Linked DNA regions of Homo sapiens. The protein of the gene in region 3 purifies or fractionates together with the protein of the main gene of each other region. This does not show direct contact. Each region holds a gene or a part of one and is shown on either strand. Other genes may lie near its edges.

Region 1 (4,113 bases), on a different chromosome or scaffold from region 3:
CCATTGTGGCCCTGCTCATCATGCCACTGGGCTACTTGTTCCAGGGTCACTGACACATAGGCCCGCAAGCACTCTCCGCCATTCTGGGGAGACAGGGGTGGCAAGCAAGATTAGTAATCGAGGGACAGATGCCAGAAGGCCCTCAGTCTGTATAAACAAATGTTCCCAGAGGCCTATGCCTCATAAAAGCGGTGAGTCTATAATGTTTGTGGTGGGCTCATACCACTGGAGTTAAGACATTTACTGTTACAGACATAGACGTGCATTACATAATTCCCCCTTTACCTAATCAGCTATCTCACAAATGTGTATATATATTTTTTTAATCACAAGGGACAATGGCCAAGCAAAATGAATTTTAATCATAAAGGTCTACCTCTGGTACTAAAAAAATATGCTTACAATCTTGGAATAACTGGGGATACTGTAGGTCTTTATATAGGTCTTACACAAACCACTAGTTGCCTAGGGATTTCCAAGCTGATCAATATTCACTGGCAAGTTCCTATAACCTTTCTAATCAATCACAGTAGCAGACACCTGAAAAGGTAACCAATTCACCCAAGAAACAAAAAGAGAAAAAATATTCAGGCATGTCTCCCCTCTCTAGAGGCCCATCACTCTGCTGACTTTATTACTAGAAGAAATATGCAGAAAGACTTTCTTATGGCCCCAAGTCTAGATGTCTGTAACCTCTTTCACAGTAGCAATACCCAATACAGATGGGCAGGGTGCTTGGTATCCATATTTTTAAAAACTGTAACATGCTCCAAAGCACCAGAAATGCTTGGCTTTTGCAGACTGAACCCTTCCTGAATCTGCTAAGTAAATATGGAGTTGAGAATTCCGTATTTCAAAAGCATAAAACCATGTCAGATTTCTCAGCATAGTATAAGCCCATGGCTGGGGAGCTATCTTCCCTCTTCTACTCTCCATGTCTCAGATACCTGCATGGTGGCATTGTCATCTGTGTGAAGGGTACACTGTGCCACAGCAGGGAAAGCTTGGCAGATGAGAAGCTGGGAAAGGGGAGGCTTTGTATTTCGTACTACTGTTGTCAGGATATCAATGGCTGTCTGAAAGAGAGAAGAAAAAGAAAAGTCAGAATTGCCTCTGGGGTGGGGGTTGCCCAACAACCAAGATCCTTACTGGATGGGTATTACATAGCAACCCAGAGAAAGCTTATTAATGAAAGGCAAGTTTCCAAAATAAAAGGAATAATTAAATGGGTAGTACTCTCAGCCTTCTCATAATAGCTTACTAATTGATTAGCCATAGGGGTGGGCAGTAGTACATGGTAGTGGATTGGATAACCAGGTGACATACTTAGTGGCACTGTGTAAAGGTGGCACTCTGTTCAATTCACTGAGGGTACCTCTGGAACAAGAAGAGCCATTTTCTTTCTTTCTTTCTTTTTGAGGCAGTCTCGCTCTGTCACCCAGGCTGGAGTGCAGTGGCACGATCTCCACTCACTGCAACCTCTGCCTCCTGGGTTCAAGTGATTCTCCTGCCTCAGCCTCTTGAGTAGCTGGTACTGCAGATGCCTGCCACCATGCCCGGCTAATTTTTGTATTTTTAGTAGAGATAGGGTTTCACCACATTGGCCAGGCTGGTCTCGAACTCCTGACCTTGTGATCCACCCACCTCGGCCTCCCAAAGTGCTGCAATTATAGGCATGAGCCACCGCGCCAAGCCAAGCCATTTTCTTAAAGCTTCAGAGAATCACCCACTGTCCTTGCAGGCAAAAGAGCTCAGCAAAATCACCCCATGAATCTCTAACGCTATTAGGTTCTTGTCAGCTAGATGCATCTGTGGGTGGCACTTGTAGATCTCTCTCACACACACACACACACACACACGGCCACTTACCGCACAAAGCCCTGCAGGAATCTTGTCTGCTGGGGCCTGCATTATGCTGACCAGAGTGGGAATCAGCCTCATTTGCATTGGGCCCTGACAGGCTTCAATCTGGGACAGCTCCTTGAAGATGTCCTGAGCCAGTGAGGCGACGACGGGATCTGAAGTGGATAAGGCAACACGGAATCCCCCTGCCTGATGGTCTGCATCTGCTTCTCGCTTAATGATGCCTGTTGTTTGGCCCTAACCTAAGTTAACAACTTCTGCATTGATTACTTATCACATACCCGGGACCTAGTGGGGCCACATGAATAACCTGAAAGAACAGGAGAGATCCTAAATCTGCAAGAGGTACACTTTGTATGGCTTCATTAAAGTAGGGACTAGTCATTAACAGCTACTCATAAAACAAAATGTGGCTTTTTCTAGAGAAAAATCTTTAAAGTCTTTATTCTTGTGAAACCTACGTTATAAAACCAAATGCTTAAAAAAAAAAAAAAAGCCCAACTGATACTTTAAGAAGACATGAAAGCTGCAAAAATTGCCAAAACACTGGCTTTGATGCATGAGAGAAATCATACATATCTCCTATGGGGTAGCCACGGTAGACATGAAGAACTCTCAAAGCTACTTCTGGGGCAAAAGGCAAAACTCCTAAAAAGCAGAGCCTTATGAAGAAAGGGAACTTTAGCTCAATCTTCTTTATCTATAGAACAAAACATCCTCCTCTATTTAGTATGGAAAAATATAGGCAATGTGCATTAAAGTATACCTTAAAAGATCACTGCAGCATTGTTTGTAATAGAAAAAAATTGGGAATACCCTAGATGTCCATTAACAGAATGGGTAAATTATGATATACCCATTTTATGGAACATTAGTAATGGCTGAAAAGAATGAGATATATCCAAGAACACAATGTGGAAAGCTCCTCAGTACACATTTTTCAGTGAAAAAGCTATCAAATAACATGTTCAGTATATCACATTATATAAATAATCCTTATCCTGTACATCTTTCTGAGCTTCAATATTGGAGCTCTCTCTTTAAAAAAAGAATCCTTAATATTTTACTAGTAATAAGGTATTAATAAATACATTCACTACAGGAAAAAAAAAACTTAAAATGCAGAAAAGTAATAATGAAAACACCTGTAATTCCACTACCTAAACACTCAACATTTTGATGTATTTTTTTTTAAAACATACCTATCTATACATACATGCTTTTCTAAAAGAAAAATCAAAACTTGGGATCATATTCTATGGATTTTTTGGGAAAAGTATCTTTTCATTTATTATAATGTAAGCTCTTTCCCATGGTTTCAGATATTCCTTTTAAGCTTGATTTTTAATGGCTGCACAGTATTTCATTTTATGGATATAATTAACTAATGTCTTTTTATAATTTCCAAATTTTTACTACTGTAAAAAATATCTAGTGAATACCTTTGTTTATAAACTTTTCCATATATCTTTCTTTAGTATCTCCTTTTCTAAATTATAGTCCTAGCCCTTTTCTTTTAGGAGGCTTTTCATTTGCCCAATTTCCTATTCTATCATCAAAGTTCTGAATTATGTCTCTTGCTTATTAGCCCTTTATTTATTATCTTTATCCCTAAGTCCTTACTAGAGAGTAAGTGTTACAGAAATAGGTACTCTATTTTTTAATGCTGCTACATTTACAGCACAATTCTATTTTTTGCTAATTGAAAGCCAGATTCTTTGCTTACGATGTTAAAACCATAGCTTCATAGCTAAGACCAGACCTAGGGAATCTTTCATTTAAATTCACCAGCCACCACCTTTTCTTTGGTGCCCCTCATAATACATCCTCCCTGGCAGCATACCATTACTGTACTTTAGGAAAATGGCGATGGTGAAGGGGCAGATTTTGCTTTCCATGCTTGCTGTGAATTCGGGGTCTACTGTACAAACGATGCACAGGGTCTCCATCACCAGGTTGAGGACCTCTGAGCTGAACTGGGCTGCTAGGTGAATTAAGCCATCAAGGATGCTGGGGAGGAAGGGCTGGAGCACGTGGGTACTCTCTGAGACTTTCAGTTGGTCACAATAACTAGAGAGAGATAGATAAGCAAGAATTATTAAAAAAAATTCAATTCCTGGTTTTCCCAATCAATCTCACATATTATAGCATTTGTATGTGTAGCTTTATAAAGCTAATTCTAAAGTTAGGTTTAAGTTTCTACTTCTTTCTGGATGTATTATATAAACATCAACACCACCATTTCTATGT
Region 2 (4,113 bases), on a different chromosome or scaffold from region 3:
GCCCTTGGTCAATGACAGTGCAAAAACTGGATAGTGGCATATTAATCAAATAAGTCATTTTCTCCCTAGGTTAAACCATAGGGAATATCTGCTTTCAACCCTTTTGGCCTCCAAAAAAAAAAAAAAAAGCATTTTGTATGGCTTTTCATACCTCATGGTGTCCTAGCTTGAGCACTGGAGCAAAGTCAGAAAATCTGAGCCCTTGACTTATCTCTGTGGTTCACTGCTGGATAATGTCCAGAAAATTATTTCATGCCTTTGAGCTTCAGCTTCCTTATCTGTAAAAAGGAGAGTAACTACCTTGACTTCTTGCTGAGATTTTAAAGAGAACAAATGTGAAAGCACACACAATCACCATTTGCAAAGGGTAAAGTGGTAGATGGATGAAAGGAATAATGATCTGTAATTTTTCCTTACATGCTAGCCTATTTAAAATGTATGAGCCTCCATGATAAGTGTGGCTAATAGTGGGGGAATGTAGATGATCTAGAGATACCGGTCAACCTACAATGTCAGCTTTATGTCATTGTGCCCCTTTCTTCTTTGGGGTTTATATGACTATAATATTTTAAAAACCAAAACCTTATGGGACCATTTTATAATTTGTGTCATATGAAATTTTAATTTTGCTATTTATAGTGAAAGGGAAAAAAGGAAGTGGAGTATATAGGATATAGATCTCTAACCACTAAAATAAACCTGTGAGTAAATGCATTTTAAGCTCTTCATGCAAATACATATATATATATATATACACACATATATATACACACACACACATATAATTACTGATTAAAAATATATATAAAATCACATATATATACATATAAAACCACTTGGCATTCAGGTTGTATAAAAATGTTGATTTTTATTCAAGAATTGTAGAGTAGATGGAAATTTAATGTACTCAATGTAATCTCTATTTGGGATGAGATTCTAGGGGGAATTAAAATTTACATAGGAGTTTCTTTGCCTGGTTTAGTCCATCCAGAGGCTTCAGATGGTCTGGGAACCAACTAAAGTTGTGTGGAGCAATGTAAAAGTCAGTATATATGTTTCTTTTCCCCTGGGGAGGGATTCAATAGATTTCATCGTATTCTTAAAGAAATTCTTGTCCTACCAAAGGTTAAGAACTAATTATCTCAGTTAAACAAAACACATAAAAATATGTTTTTATATACATGTTGAATTATTCAAATCTTCAGTGCTTAGTAGTTTATTAATCTTGAAGGCCTAGAAAGTGAATAATTTCAACAACTGAACAAAAATAAAATTTAAAAAGAAACTATTTTCTGGTCATTAGAACAAACTTGTTATAAAATATATGTCTTTTTGCTATTGCTTCTCCACTTCAACACTCATGATCATGTTTTGTTGCTATTTCCCCTATCTCATTTTTTCTGGCTGCTGGGTTAAACTTCCTGTTTTTGCAGAATGACCAAAAACATTGGTGATGATGGAGGTGGAGATGACAACACTTTCAATTTCAGCTGGAAGGTCTTTACCAGCTGGGACTACCTGATCGGCAATCCTGAAACAGCAGACAACAAATTTAATTCTATCACAATGAACTTTAAGGTAGAGGCACCAACTTCAAAAACCTGCTGTTTGTATTTCTAAGAGTAAAATTGGAGGCATTCCATCTGGTCCAGTAGTGCAGTATCTTGACAATTTACATGAAAGATTAACTCATGGTTTCTGCCTACCAAGATCTTGCCATGGTTCTGATTATAACTGGAAAATCTTCCATGACCCACAACAGCACTATTATTCCTTAAACACTTCTCTTCTCTAAATCTGGTAATAAAATAATGTTACTGGATTGAAATAGGACCATGAGTAATCAGAATAAGATATTTTAAAAACTAGAACAATGTTCACTAATTATTTACAGGAATAAGCATAATATTGAAGTGACCCTAAAACATTATTTTGTAGTTTTTTTTTTAATTCACTGGAATGAAGATTTTTAGAGTGAAGACTATCCTAATATCAGAGCAATCACAGTTTGTTTGCAAGAATTCTTCCTTCTGTCTTACTTGCCATCGTTTGTTGGCAATATTCACCTGGTTTGTGGAATCTCAGATTTAGTTTACATTGTCATTCCTCACATTCTGATGATTGTAAAAATAACTTTTGAGGTTTTGATACTTTTAAAATGTAGCTAAGATATTCTATTTTGGGTTTTTGTTTGTTTGTTTGTTTTCATGGATACAGGAAGCTATCACAGAAGAAAAAGCAGCCCAAGTAGAAGAAAACGTCCACTTGATCAGATTCCTGAGGTTTCTGGCTAACTTCTTCGTGTTTCTAACACTTGGAGGGAGTGGATACCTCATCTTTTGGGCTGTGAAGCGATCCCAGGAATTTGCACAGCAAGATCCTGACACCCTTGGGTGGTGGGAAAAAAATGAAGTTCGTCTCTGCATGCTTTTTATGTGCTTAGAACCTGACATTTGTTTCTTTTGTGGGTTATGTTTCTTTGATGGAACATTTAAAAAGGCCACCCTTTACCTATCCCCTATCCTGCCCTTACAGTTAACCAACCCTGTTGCTCATTTTCCATTCTATTCTAGTCTTATTTCTAAATCTGGACTGTCTGTTTTTCATTTTGTGACATGATGGAAAGTTAGAGTCAGAAAAGATATTAAAAAACACATAGTCTAATCATTATGTTTTACAGATGGGAATGATAAATCTCAAGAGATTGCATTATATGTTTATGGTCACAGAGTTAGGAGAAGAGTCAGGGTGAGAACCTAGGAATCTTGACTTCGAGTCCAAGGCTCTTGCTGCTTTCTCTGCAAATCCTTCATCTGTCATTAAAAGATCAAATTGTTGCCTGAACTTTTTGAAGCAGCCATGATAAAGCCACTGATTCCTATGTTGATCTCACTGGAAACACTCAGATTGCTTCTCCACCTTTGGGCATGTCTGGGCTTCCCTCTGTTTTCATTAGAAGCCTAACTGCAGCATCTCCATCTCCATTTCCTCCTGTCCTGTACCTTACTTTCTCTCCCTCTAAATGCTATTCAAATGAAGAAGGCCAGCTCTTTTCCAGGAATTAAACATTATGACCGTAATTTGCCTTTAGAGTATCTGCCCATTTAGTGAATCAGAGAAAGGAGGTTAGACATAGATCATTTAGAATCAGAAAATCATTGGTCATGAGTTGTTGCTAGAGTCTGTTCCCGTTCATAAAATGCTTATGTGTATGATGTGACGTCATTTTGAGCTTGGGCATTTTCAAAGTATGTGCAGATTTAGGCTGTGGGAAGTGTAGACTTCCCACACTGAAACTTTTGCAGAACAGTATAGATCAAAAGAATTAAAATATGTCTTTATAAGCATAGAATTTTCTAAAAAATCTTGGACAGCAAATGATATAATCTACTTACAGAAAAAGGTTCCAAATAACATTCTGAGTATTTCAGAAGTGGTACCAATAGAGACGGGACTAGATATTTTAAAGACTTTAATATACAGTCATGTCATAAAAACTTGTAAAATATAAGTAATTTAGCAGAGGGCTTTTATTTATTTAAAATGAAAAATGTAGGAACACCTCAAAGCATTTACTAAGTTTGCTTTCAAAATGGTCTCATAATTGTAATAGTACATAGAGGTAACATTATCATGCAGCTTTGGTCCATTATTTATATTGGTTATGTTTTTGTATAAATAAACCATATTAAAGGATGGGTAGTTGATTATCAATAAAATAACTATTCTTTGTAAGAACCTCTTTAACATATATTTTAGGGACCCTCTGAGTCCTAGGGGCCAATGAAGGTAATAATGGAGATTCATGAGTAACTTTACAAATTTGATAAAACCAAATTTAAATTTGCCTTGCATAAGTTTGCACAGGATAAGCCAAATTTTCTTTACATTAGTCTAAAATTATAGCATGCTGATTTTGTATTATGTCATGCTGAGATTTGGATCCTGTTGGTCATACTTATATAATGTTTTAATAAAAATGACAAAAATCTAATAGCAATTGTTTTCTAAATATAGTCTGGTAGTTATTATAATTATTCACACCACGAAGTCCACAGGAGAAAATAGGAAATGTTTAGTGGTGACAGTTTGAGCCGGGTATTTGGGAAAGGA
Region 3 (4,113 bases):
CTCCCCTGCCCACTGCATGTGGCCCTGTCTTCTTGCCAGCTTTGCCTCCACTCCTCCCACACCTGCCAGGTCCTCCTTCCCTCTCCCATGACCTGGGTGGCAGACCAGTGTCCTGACTCTACCCTAGGCCCATTTCTTGTCCTCCTCAAGGCCACAGCCTTTTCCTAGGTGGTCTCAGCTGAGTTCACCTGCATGGCCTCGGCTGGGTGGCTCAGGCCCCTCTGTGTAAGGGGGAGGCGGGCCTCTGCCCAGGCTTGGGGAGACAAGGAATGAGACAAGGAATCCCAAGTCGTGCCTGCCGCAAATCTCCAGCTTCTGTGAAGCCCTCCCCTGAAATCAGCCTCGGCTGCCCTCCCGCATCTGCAAGCTCATATCCGAAGCAGCTTGCCTGAGACCCATGCAGGACTGTCTGGGTCAGCTGGTGCTTCACAGGTGTCTTTTCTACCTGACATTTGGTACAGCACACAGGAGCCCTTAGCCTGAGGCCAGAGGACACCCTGCTTTTGACCCTGGTGCACAGGGGTAAGCGGTCAATGGCTTCTCCAGGATGAAAGCCTCCGGCACCAGCCCCGCCCCAGCCCTGCCCAAGCCACGCCACGGGTGCCTTACACGGGATGATCTGGATGACCCTGGCCTTCTTCATGTTTGCCGGCAAGTTGCCCGTCCTCATGTTCTCCTTCATGATCCGGACATTTGTCAATTTCTGCAGCAGAGAAGGATATAATGACACAGTTAAACCTCTGACACTCCTGAGCACATTGCTCAGCCGAGGACTAGTGCTGCTGGCAAGGACGCCTGCTCAAAGGAAACCACTCTCCAACCCAGGAAGCCTCCTTAGCATTGGGAAATACAAATGTGTGCCTAGTAGGGCTGCTATGAGGCTCTGAAAGCCACCTGATCCTTCTTCCCTTGTAAATCATGGCTCAGGTATTGCCCCTGCTTTTTCTGAGGTCAGTTAAGGGGCAAGTGATTGAAAGAGGCTTCCTTTAAATGGTCACCTGTTTTCCTCGTGCCCTTGGCTGCTTACACCAGGATGGAGAGGAGGGTCAGCTGTACTCACCCTGAACTCCTCCTCCAGCCCGATCTTGTCGAAGTGGGTGGTGGTGCCGTGCATGGTCTGCAGGTGCTTCTCCAGGGAGGACACGTCCAGCTCTGTGTCCCCGTAGAGGTAGTACTCGAGTAAGGCTTGGTAGATGAACGTGTACTGCATCTGCAGAGAGGCCAGGGGTGCCCACACCCTCAACTCTGCCCTGCAGTCTTGGCCCACGTGGAGCTTGGCAGACCAAAGAGGGCGGCTTTCTTCTTTTTCTCTTTTTGCCAACACAAGGAGGTGTGAGGCAAGAGTCAGAGTACCGGCCACGGATAACGACCATTTATGCCCTTGAGTAAGGAGAACGGTAGCAGCAGAGCCTCACATTGGTGAGCACGCCACGCACTGTGTACATGCACCGTTTGGGGGAGTAGGATTGCCCCATCTCACATGAGGATACGAGGGAAAGATGAGGACGAGGGAGTCCCTGAGGTCCCACGCGTGGGCAGGGAAGGCTATGGGGAGCGAAGCCAGGCCAGGCCCAGGCTGGTTGCCACGTGCCCATCAGAGCCAGGGCCCTGCACACCTGTGTGGCGAAGGCATCGGGTTTGCTTTGGGAAGCTAGATCAGGGCAAGAGGAAGGCATGACTCACATCCGTTTGAACCATCTGAGGGCGCTGATTACGGATTCGAGACACAAATTCAAACACATCCACCTTCTGCTCCGCGTGCATCATGGCCATCATGGCATCGATCACAATGAAGGTGCCCGTCCGGCCCACGCCCGCGCTTTGGGGAAAGAGAAAGATGCTGCGTCGTGAGTCACACTCCTCCCGAAGTAAATGAAAGGCCCCGAAGGGGCCTGCGCACCCAGGTCACTGGATGCAACTTTTTGTTTTTTTGGTTAATTAGGAGCAAAGCTACAGTGCAGCCACCAGAGGGAGCTGTGGTCTCAGTAAAGTGATCTCAGGCCGGTCCTCTGATAGCCACCGACACTCTACTAAGAGGCACATTAACAGCTGGTGCAGTAAGCCTCGGATTAGGCTGTGTGGAGAATTTTTCTCACTTACCAAACAGTGTCTTCTTCTTATATGTGTGATTGGCATCCTAGATCTGTCCCCCTGGGAGCAGAGGGACCTCAGATCAACTATGCAACAGCTCTGGTATCCAGCCTCCCTCTCTGTCAAACTGGGCAAACCAAGTCATCTGACTCGGGGCATTAAGTGAGGTGGCATCTGTCAGATTACTGTTATCTGACCCTGCAAATTCTTCCCAGTATGAGCTACACTGGAGGGTGGGTGGGGTGGGGTCCAGCCTCTGCTTGGCCCCAGCAAGCGAGTGTTGCTCAGACTTGGGGAAAGCCCGTTCTTCGGGGGTTCCTGGACGGCTTCTCGTGAACACCTGCATGACAGGTGCAGAGCGCCTGCATCACTGCGTGCAGGTGGCTTTTGTCCCTGGCAGTGCTGTGATACTCAGAATGAACCTGTCTGTAACAGATGGAAACTTAGTATCTAATCAAAGTGATACCCTGGTGAGGCCAATCACTGCCAGGAACAAGTGGGGCTCTCTGTGGACAGGGGGTTGTGGGGTGGCCTTGGCTGTACATTTGAGTAATTCTTCATGTTGTGCAAAGCCCACCCAGATGCCAGTCACAGGCTCCGCCGAGGCTGTCCTTCCCATCACAGGTGAGGAAACCGAGGCTGAAGTGGCAGCTGGCGAGGGGCAGCCTGGTCCTCGGACCCTGGTCTCCAGGACAGCGTGTTCTGGAAGACTCTGCTGTGGGGGCCCATCTGAGCATGGTGTGCTCTTCCATAACGACTTGTGTGTTGTTGGGGGGCTTCCTGTAGAAACCAGGGGGCTTTCTCTCATTTCCATCTTGGTTCCCAGAGGTGACTTGGGATTCCCGGGGAGAGGTGAGGGCGGCCAAGCAGACCTGCCCAGAACTCCATTCCCACCATCAACCGGAGCCTCCTGGCTTTGGTGGGTTTTATCGACTGGGATGAAGAGGGGGCTCTCTGAACATTCTCCTGTAGGGTTCTTGGGGCCTGGCTCAGTCACTGACATTTGTGTTCACATCAGCCCTGCCCAAACCTCTGCCCACCCTGATATTGGTCCCCTGGCATTGCCCATGAGGATGAGTCATCCCACTGTGGCCTGCCCTTGAGGGTCCCGCCCCGTGGCCCCCACAGCGTACCTACAGTGGACCACGATGGGCCCAGCGTGCACGGGGTTGAGCGTCTTTACTTTCTTGAGGAACTTCAGCATCCCAATGGGGGTAAAAGGCACTCCGAAGTCGGGCCAGCTGGTGAAGTGCAGCTGTGAGACCAGCCTGGGGGCTTTGCAGCCGTCGGGGAGCTGCTGCGGGGGACGCGGGGAGACAAGAGTGGGTGAAACAATCCTCCCCCTGCTCCCCCAGCATCTCATTCTGAGGACGCCGCCGTGGGCTCCCCTGTGCTGGGGCTGCGTAGGGGAGGGGCCCATCCACAGAGGGCCTGCCTGAGCCAGACAGCCTGGACCTTACCCCTGCCGACTCTGAACATGTGCTGCTTTTGGGGCCACAGAACAGGGCCCGCAGCAACCGTCTATGCCCAGGTCAGGCAGGGCCCAAGCAGCCAGACACATCCCCAAAGTTGGTCTGTGTGCTCACAGACCCCCGTGCAAGCAGGGCGGCCATGGCCCATCTTGCCTGGACAGTCCCACCTCAGGCCGGTGGTGCTGAGTAATCACCAACAGCACATCCTTCCTTGGGCAAAGCTGTCTTACATTTGGGAGGACAGATGATGCAGTCGGCCTGCTCTTTGGAGTCTCCCAGACCTGCCCTCAGAGCCTCTCTCAGCTTTTGGACCCAGAGCCCATGAGTTTAATTCCCTTGCCCAGATCACGGAAGGTGATACACAGCGTATTTGGAAGTAGATGTGTGTGCATGTGTGTGCACATGTATGCATGTGTATGTGTGCATGTGTGCGCATGTATGTGTGGGTGAATGTGTGTATGTGCGCACGTGTGAATGTGTGCACATGTATGCATGTGTGTGCATGTGTGAATGTGGGTGCGTACACGTGTGCACCCATGTGCGTGTATGT
Region 4 (4,113 bases), on a different chromosome or scaffold from region 3:
GAGCTTGCAGCCATGATATGAGCGTCTCCCTAATTAGCTGTTGTTGAACAGTGGTTAGTTCTGAGTATCTGTTCAAAATAGAGAAGAAAAAGAATAATGGCTATATTTGGTGTCTATGGTTGTAAAAAATAACAGCCTCATATATTTGAAAGGGAAAATTTGTATAGCTCTCAATTATCTGAAGTTCCCTAACATAAACTGATAATGCCACTCATCATTGCTTTAAAGATAAGGACAAGAGTGGCAGGTAGGGCATCAATATCAATCTTTAATTTGTGATTCTGTTCATGTTGAAACAAATGATGGCTACACAATTTTTCGAATGAAAATGTTTTGTGGTCTGTGATCTACAGAATAAACCAATAGGTGAACTAGGAATCCTCTCAGTAGTGATTTGTTATTTTGCTTAATTAGTAAGTCAGAGATTCTGAACACAAGTGCCCATGCAGCTACTTAACTCTAAGAGAGAATTGTCATGTAGAAAAACAGGCCTGGTGTTACCAGATATTCTGACTTTTCCAGAAAAGCTGGAAATCTAGATTTTTCTGTGAAATATCTGGATTTTCATTTTTTTTTTTTTTTTTGAGACAAGGTCTTGCTGTATTGCCCAGGCTGAAGTGCAGTGGCACCATCATGGCTCACTGGAGCCTCAACCTCCTGGCCTCAGCTTCCCCAGTAGCTGGGAATACAGAAGCGCGCAATCATGCCTGGCTAATTTTTTAAAAAAATTTTTGTAGAGATGAGGTCTCACTATGTTGCCTAGGCTGGTCTCAAACTCCTGAGCTCAAACGATCCTCTTGCCTTGGACTCCCAAAGTGCTGAGATCATAGGCATGAGCCACTGCGCCCAGCCTTGGATTTTTATGTGTAACCAACAAACTCAGCACTTTTTTTATTTTTGAGACGGAGTCTCGCTGTCACCCAGTCTGGAGTGCAGTGGTGTGATCCCGGCTCACTGCAACCTCCGCCTCCCAGGTTCAAGCAATTCTCGTGCCTCAGTCTCCTGAGTAGCTGGGATTACAGGTGCATGCCACCACATCTGACTAGTTTCTGTATTTTTTGTAGAGACGGGGTTTCACCATGTTGGCCAGGCTGGTTAGTCTCAAACTCCTGACTTCAAGTGATCTACCGGCCTCAGCCTCCCAAAGTGCTCGGATTACAGGCGAGAGCCACCTCACCTGGCCAACTCAGCACTTTTAAAACACTTTGGGGTACATCAAAACGTATCTATAACCTGGATATAACATATACACTGTGAATTTACAACCTGTATTATGGTTTCCTTATGGAAGAAAAACATTAAATTAAAAAAATGACCTCTCCCCGCAAATCTGAGTCAAAACAGTAAGAAAAGCCTTACTTGTATTTAACTTGATGTTCCAGTACTTGAAAGCAGAAAAACTTCACATGATCATCACTGAAAAAGAAAAAAAGAAAATGAGATAAGCAGAATATGAACTGAGGAAAACAAATCAAAGGCAAAATAGTAATGAGTAATACAGCAGAAAAGTTTCTCAAACTAGACCTTTGGCTTGTTTCATACTTACTGGTCTCATTTTATGACATTAAAATCCATTTACTTAAAAAGCTATGAGAACTCTAAATATTACACAATATTTAAAATTTCCATTAAATCTGACAAGCAAACTAACCAAGATATTAAGATGCACCTTGAATACAATGCTTTGTAAGCAGCAAACCATCCCTCTAAATTCCAGATATTAAGATTCCTGGAACAGTCCCTTCATTTTACAATAACAGGTTAGGTGTAAAATTACAAATGGCAGAACAGACAGAGTCTGAGTGAAAGTAAAGATGGTCGTCCAAGTCCTGCTTAAAATTCAACCCCAGTAGTTCTATTGTAGCCAAATCCAAAACAAGCAGGGCCACATGGACTGTCAGTCCAACTTCAAAGTTTCGTACAGGACACTAAATTACAAATATGGTACCCTTGCTTATACAAGATGGGGGCAAAAGTCAACACACCAATTACCCACTTCCAACTGTCTTTCTAGGGGAGTGGCAGAGTTGCAGTTAGCCAGCTATAAACACTGACAAAGATCTTCTAGAGACCAACAATCTGCCAATGAAGTGAGTATAAGAGAGTTCCTATTTCCGTAAAAAGTTAGTTGAATGCTTTAGAAAGATTTCATAGAAAGCCACACTGCAGAAGGAAAAAATCTTGTACATATTTGACATGGCCTATATAACCAGAAGACTTGAGAGGCGGGGACAAATATCTTAAAAATCTATGGATCGTCACTCATTGTACAGAGACCCATGCTAGAAATTGTAGAGGATGGGTTACAGGTGTGACCAACCTACGAATAAAGTGAATGCTAGTTAGTATACAAAGATAAAGACTGTGGTCCAATATTAAAAGATTGGTCACCGAATGATTATATACCTTAAGTTAAAATTAAAAATTAAGATATAGGCCGGGTACGGTGGCTCACGCCTGTAATCCCAGCACTTTGGAAGGCCGAGACGGGCGGATCACAAGGTCAGGAGATCGAGACCATCCTGGCCAACACAGTGAAACCCTGTCTCCACCAAAAAGAAATACAAAAAAATTAGCCGGGCATGGTGATGGGCACCTGTAGTCCCAGCTACTCAGGAGGCTGAGGCAGGAGAATGGCAAGAACCCAGGAGGCGAAGCTTGCAGTGAGCCTAGATTGCGCCACTGCACTTCAGCCTGGGCGACAAAGCGAGACTCCATCTCAAGAAAATAATAATAATAATAATAAAATAAATAAATAATTTTAAAATTAAGATATATATCATTTACAATCACCGTCTTTACCAAAGTTTTAGGAAAGCAGTTATCACCCTCAATCATAAGATAAGGAAGTTTTTACTGCACTTTATTCCAGCTGGGATCTGGTGACAGGTACACAATATATACCAAAGGATGGTTTTACTGAAAAGTTAATTCTGAAATGGCCAAACTGGGTTTACTACTTTTCTCATTTCTACATGGAATGACTATATGTTAATGGCTTTGCAAAAAAAAAAAAAAGTCATAAAATGTTTTTATGAAAACACTTTCCAAATACAGGTAAATTTCACAGTCCTGTCATGTCCACAGAAATTTAAATTGTCATGCAAATTTTGTTTTTAATTACCTGTATGTCCTCTGGGCTAGAGCTTCTGCACACACCTGCCAGGCATCTGGGGAAATTTTTAACTGCTCAAAATAGGCCAGGGCCTATAAGATTGCAAAACAAAAAAATGCATTTAGAATAAACAATCTCAATGCCCTGCTAATATAAACAAAATATTCTGAGAGTTGCAAACCTATAACAAATCAGTAAACTTAATAGAAAAACAGTTAAAACATTAAATGCAGGCTTCCGAATATATGCAACTTGGGGTCATTCCTAAAAATAGGTTAAATAAATATAAATTCCATCAGTTAGATAATCAAACCTGTTTTCTTACAGCAGCAACAACACAAAAATGCCCCGCAGCCTTCATGGGGTTATTATGAAGAATGAGAGCAAGTGCTTTGTCAAGTGCCATACTACTGAGAAATTGCAGAGGATGAGTTAAGGGTGTGATCATTTTATAATATGCAATTATAAAATGGCACGTGAAGGGCACTTTTCCTATTTAATAGCACATCTGCTATTAAAGCGGTGATTATAAAAGATAAAACATACTGTGTACCTTATCTGATCTACTGTTACACAGGAGAGTATTTCAAGTCTTTAATTATATCATGTAAGTTCCCTAAAGAGATTAAAATTGGAGTACAAGTGCATGATATGAATTTTGAAAAATATTAAGTAACTGAAAAGGTCAAAGCTCGAGGAAGTTTTTTATCTCTAAGTTTATGAATTCAGGGCCTTGTAATCACAAGTAACAGTGCCAACAAGGAGCAAGAGTACTCTAGAATGGATGCAGCACCAAGTCCATACGCTCTCTACCAAACTGTTGGGAAAATGGGAGTTACTTCAGGCACTCTTCCCATCAGCATGTTGCACCAGATGCAGGTTTCACACATGGCAATGGACAAATAGTAGTGAACATCTTGTGACAAGTATCTCCAATAGACAAGAAAATTGCACATCAACTGGAAGCACTGCTAGATGATTTGACAGCAATTATGTAT
Region 5 (3,407 bases), on a different chromosome or scaffold from region 3:
GCCAAACATTTACACAAAAGGATCCAAGAGCTGCTTTACTAAAAACTACTTACAGTCATAATGATGACGTTTTCTATATAAACAAGTGCTTGAAAAGTATTTTAAAGCTTATTCTTCTGAGCTTATTATTCTTCATGCACTCTTTTCATGCTTTTAACATCTTTAACAGAAGTGTCCCCCTTTGAGGTGTTATTGCAAAGATTAACCTCATTCCAGCACAGGGCCAACTCCCCACACCTACCTCACGTGGGAAGCAGAATTTCCGGGCCATGCTGAGCAGCCGGCTGCCTGCTCCAACAGGAAGGTGCACACCTACACCCAGGGAGTCCAGATGGAAGCCACTGAACCGAGTCCTCCACAGACTCCTTCCACCAGACTGCAGCTCTCACCAATGGAATGAGAATGGCTAATTCTGTACTGTTTCTGGCAGGTCTGATGCATGAGTAACCTTGTCTATGAGTCTATTTCCTGGCTAAGCCTGAGCTCATGCTATGTAACATTTTGCAACACTATTTCCATAGGGAAAACTGAAAAGAGCTAGAGGGTTCCCAAAGCCCTGGTCTGGGCCTAGCCTTGACTAACCAGTCATCCCCTGGGTCTCTTCATTGCAACATGCCACTTCCCCAACCAGGGTCATCATGACAGTGAAAGCACAGCAAAATGCCCGTGAACTACAAAACATCACACAACCAGCAGCCTGCAGGCCACTACGAGCCAGTCCAAGATGCCTATAATGGTTTTAACAAGGAAAGACAGCATATTCAAAAGCAAACACAATCTCTGAAGGGTCAAGAGGTGCTCACAGTATAATAACTCAAAAGACTAGGAAAAAAAAAGAGAAACCTTTATTTACAACCATGGGAGTCCCACAGGAGTACACAAAACACACAATGTGCACACACACAAAATGAACCTTTTAAGTCAATACCATGCGTGCTCCTGGCCGCGCGCCACCCCTCAGTGCCCTATCCGCACCACCATCACAGTGACGTTGTCGGCCGAGCCCCGCTGCACCGCCTTGTTGGCCAGCCTGTTGCAGGCTGCTTCGTAGCGGGCGTCGGCTGCGGACTTCCCTTCCCGGGTCTGGATCTTTTCATCCTACCAGATGAGAAAGGGAATGAGTGAATGGAGTGACCCCGCACCCTGTCACTTTCCTGAGACATGACTGCCAGGAAGAAGAGCTGCTCTGGTCTCCATCAGGGCTGGCAGGACAAACTGACCAGTGAGTCAGTAGGCAGAGTTCACACTGAAAAAGGGCACAAGGGCTGTCCCACAATGGGAGGAAATGGGGTCTCAGAACTTCTACTTCTCTGAAAACTAAGACACAATTGGGACAACCACCACCCCCGTGTGAGATTTCTCACCTCGAGACAGGACAAGATGAAGTTCACGGCTTCTTCTGGGGTAAAGACCTTGAAGAGCCCATCACAGGCCAACAAAATGAACCTACAACACCAGGGAGAAATATAAACGGGTTTTAGGCCCAACCAAAAAATAAAAAATAAAAAAAGGGCCTGGAGATGGAGATAAAATAAATATTTGTCCAACTATTCAAAGGCTAAGGTTTTTTTTTTCTTTTTTCTTTTTTTTTTTTTTTTGAGATGGAGTTTCACTCTTGTTGCCCAGGCTGGAGTGCAATGACGCAATCTTGGCTCACTGCAACCTCCACCTTCCCAGTTTAAGCTGTTCTCCTGCCTCAGCCTCCTGAGTAGCTGGGATTACAGGTGCCCGGCACCACGCCCGGGTAATTTTTTGTATTTTTAGTAGAGACAGGGTTTCACCACGTTGGCCAGGCTGGTCTCAAACTCCTAACCTCAGGTGATTCACCTGCCTCAGCCTCCCAAAGTGCTGGGATTACAGGCATGAGCCACAGCGCCTGGCCAGGCTAAGATTTGTTTAAACCCACTTAATTTCTGAGACAAAGGTTTAAACTACTTACAAGTATTTGTGGATAGGATGTTATACATCAAAACTGAGACTATCCTTCTCTTCGCCAATTAACAGAATTATTAATTACCTCAAACATTAGGTGCTGTACTTTCTTAGGCAAACTCCAGAAAAATCACTGAATAAAAACATGGGTGTTATGGTAAATATACAAGAATTTATAACACCATAGGCCTTACACCACTTCCAGACATAAAGCTGAGAATGAGCCCAGCCTCGGTGAAACATCCTTGGGCACACACTGCACAGCTTGGGGCTGCATCCAAGACCGAGGCCCAAGAAGGGGCAGCTGTGCGTGTTCCTGTGTTTGAAAACCACATGCTCTCCCTTTCAGAATCAAACCCCCCTAGACCGTCCCTGGAATCTTTCTGAACACCAATGGATTCAATGTGACAGTTCTAGTTTTCCTGGCATTGGGGGTGGGGAATACGCATCCCCACAGCTTTGCGGTATAAGCCACCCTCCTTTTCTCACTGTAATATCTGTGGGGTTTTTTTGTGTTTTTTTTTCTTTGTTTTTTGTTGCTGCTGCTGCTGTTGTTGTTGAGGCGGACTTTCCCTCTTGTTGCCCAGGCTGGAGAGCAATGGCATGATCTCGCTCACTGTAACCTCCGCCTCCCAGGTTCAAGTGATTCTCCTGCCTCAGCCTCCTGAGTAGCTGGGATTACAGGCGCCCACCACCACGCCTGGCTAATTTTTGTATTTTTGGTAGAGATGAGGTTTTGCCATGTTGGCCAGGCTGGCCTCAAACTCCTGACCACAGGTGATCCACCTGCCTCCGCCTCCCAAAGTGTTGGGATTACAGGCGTGAGCCACCACACCCAGCCTGTTTTCCTCGTTTAACTAGGCTTTCACTCGGCCGCTACTTGCCGAGCCTATCGTCCATGCTGAGAACACCGTGGGGCCTAGTCCTGGCAGGCTCCCACCCCTTCCAGTGTCCTGAGACTCAGACCCTCAATAACCAATCACACAGACCCATGACTACAACCCAGGAAGGCGAGCTAGGAAGCAAAGCAGAAGGTGCATCCTTCAGAACACCAGAGGCGGCGGCTGCTGGAGAGATGATGGAGGACCCCGCGGTACGTGAGAACATGACAAACACACTGAAGAAGATGTGGAGAATGGGGCAGTGGCTCAAGACAAGGCCAAGCAGGCGAGTGCCAAAGCAAGGCACGCGCTCTTCATCCGCAGCACTGGGGCGGGACTCAGAGCAGCACTCGGAGGCCCACTCGCCACAGTGCCACTAGTGTCTCTGGCCTCCCCTCATCAACTCAGTGCTGTGAATCCTGCTTCCGGGAGCTTTCCTTGACCCCTCCTGCTACTGCCTTAGTTCAGCCCTTCATCATCAGGCCAGGGCTGCTGCACCGCTGCTCACAGGCCTCCCTAGCCCCATAATGCCATCTTTAACCATCACCTGTTGAGGCCCTGCCCTCAGCCAGCACGGTGCCGTACCCTTAGGCA

Evidence for each region.
Region 1: the proteins of PTPRE (region 3) and IPO9 purify together in Homo sapiens (affinity purification with mass spectrometry, with the first as the bait; one large-scale study listed by BioGRID). This does not show direct contact.
Region 2: the proteins of PTPRE (region 3) and TMC1 purify together in Homo sapiens (affinity purification with mass spectrometry; one large-scale study listed by BioGRID and IntAct). This does not show direct contact.
Region 4: the proteins of PTPRE (region 3) and XPOT purify together in Homo sapiens (affinity purification with mass spectrometry; one large-scale study listed by BioGRID and IntAct). This does not show direct contact.
Region 5: the proteins of PTPRE (region 3) and ILKAP purify together in Homo sapiens (affinity purification with mass spectrometry, with the first as the bait; one large-scale study listed by BioGRID). This does not show direct contact.

What each region holds. Positions count from the first base shown.
Region 1 is NC_000001.11:201,866,553-201,870,665, reverse strand, and holds part of IPO9 (importin-9), read right to left. Parts: intron 3,934-4,113; coding exon 3,707-3,933; intron 2,019-3,706; coding exon 1,870-2,018; intron 1,077-1,869; coding exon 948-1,076; intron 84-947; coding exon 1-83. UniProt on the Homo sapiens protein: Nuclear transport receptor that mediates nuclear import of proteins, such as histones, proteasome and actin. Serves as receptor for nuclear localization signals (NLS) in cargo substrates.
Region 2 is NC_000009.12:72,786,906-72,791,018, forward strand, and holds part of TMC1 (transmembrane channel-like protein 1), read left to right. Parts: intron 1-1,433; coding exon 1,434-1,578; intron 1,579-2,217; coding exon 2,218-2,412; intron 2,413-4,113. UniProt on the Homo sapiens protein: Pore-forming subunit of the mechanotransducer (MET) non-selective cation channel complex located at the tips of stereocilia of cochlear hair cells and that mediates sensory transduction in the auditory system.
Region 3 is NC_000010.11:128,067,398-128,071,510, reverse strand, and holds part of PTPRE (receptor-type tyrosine-protein phosphatase epsilon isoform 1 precursor), read right to left. Parts: intron 3,389-4,113; coding exon 3,225-3,388; intron 2,872-3,224; coding exon of another isoform or gene 2,649-2,871; exon of another isoform or gene 1,826-2,648; intron 1,820-1,825; coding exon 1,684-1,819; intron 1,211-1,683; coding exon 1,061-1,210; intron 704-1,060; coding exon 610-703; intron 1-609. UniProt on the Homo sapiens protein: Isoform 1 plays a critical role in signaling transduction pathways and phosphoprotein network topology in red blood cells. May play a role in osteoclast formation and function.
Region 4 is NC_000012.12:64,414,001-64,418,113, reverse strand, and holds part of XPOT (exportin-T), read right to left. Parts: intron 3,208-4,113; coding exon 3,125-3,207; intron 1,417-3,124; coding exon 1,360-1,416; intron 69-1,359; coding exon 1-68. UniProt on the Homo sapiens protein: Mediates the nuclear export of aminoacylated tRNAs. In the nucleus binds to tRNA and to the GTPase Ran in its active GTP-bound form. Docking of this trimeric complex to the nuclear pore complex (NPC) is mediated through binding to nucleoporins.
Region 5 is NC_000002.12:238,169,579-238,172,985, forward strand, and holds the end of ILKAP (integrin-linked kinase-associated serine/threonine phosphatase 2C), read right to left. Parts: intron 1,447-3,407; coding exon 1,365-1,446; intron 1,099-1,364; coding exon 958-1,098; 3' UTR 824-957; downstream 1-823. UniProt on the Homo sapiens protein: Protein phosphatase that may play a role in regulation of cell cycle progression via dephosphorylation of its substrates whose appropriate phosphorylation states might be crucial for cell proliferation.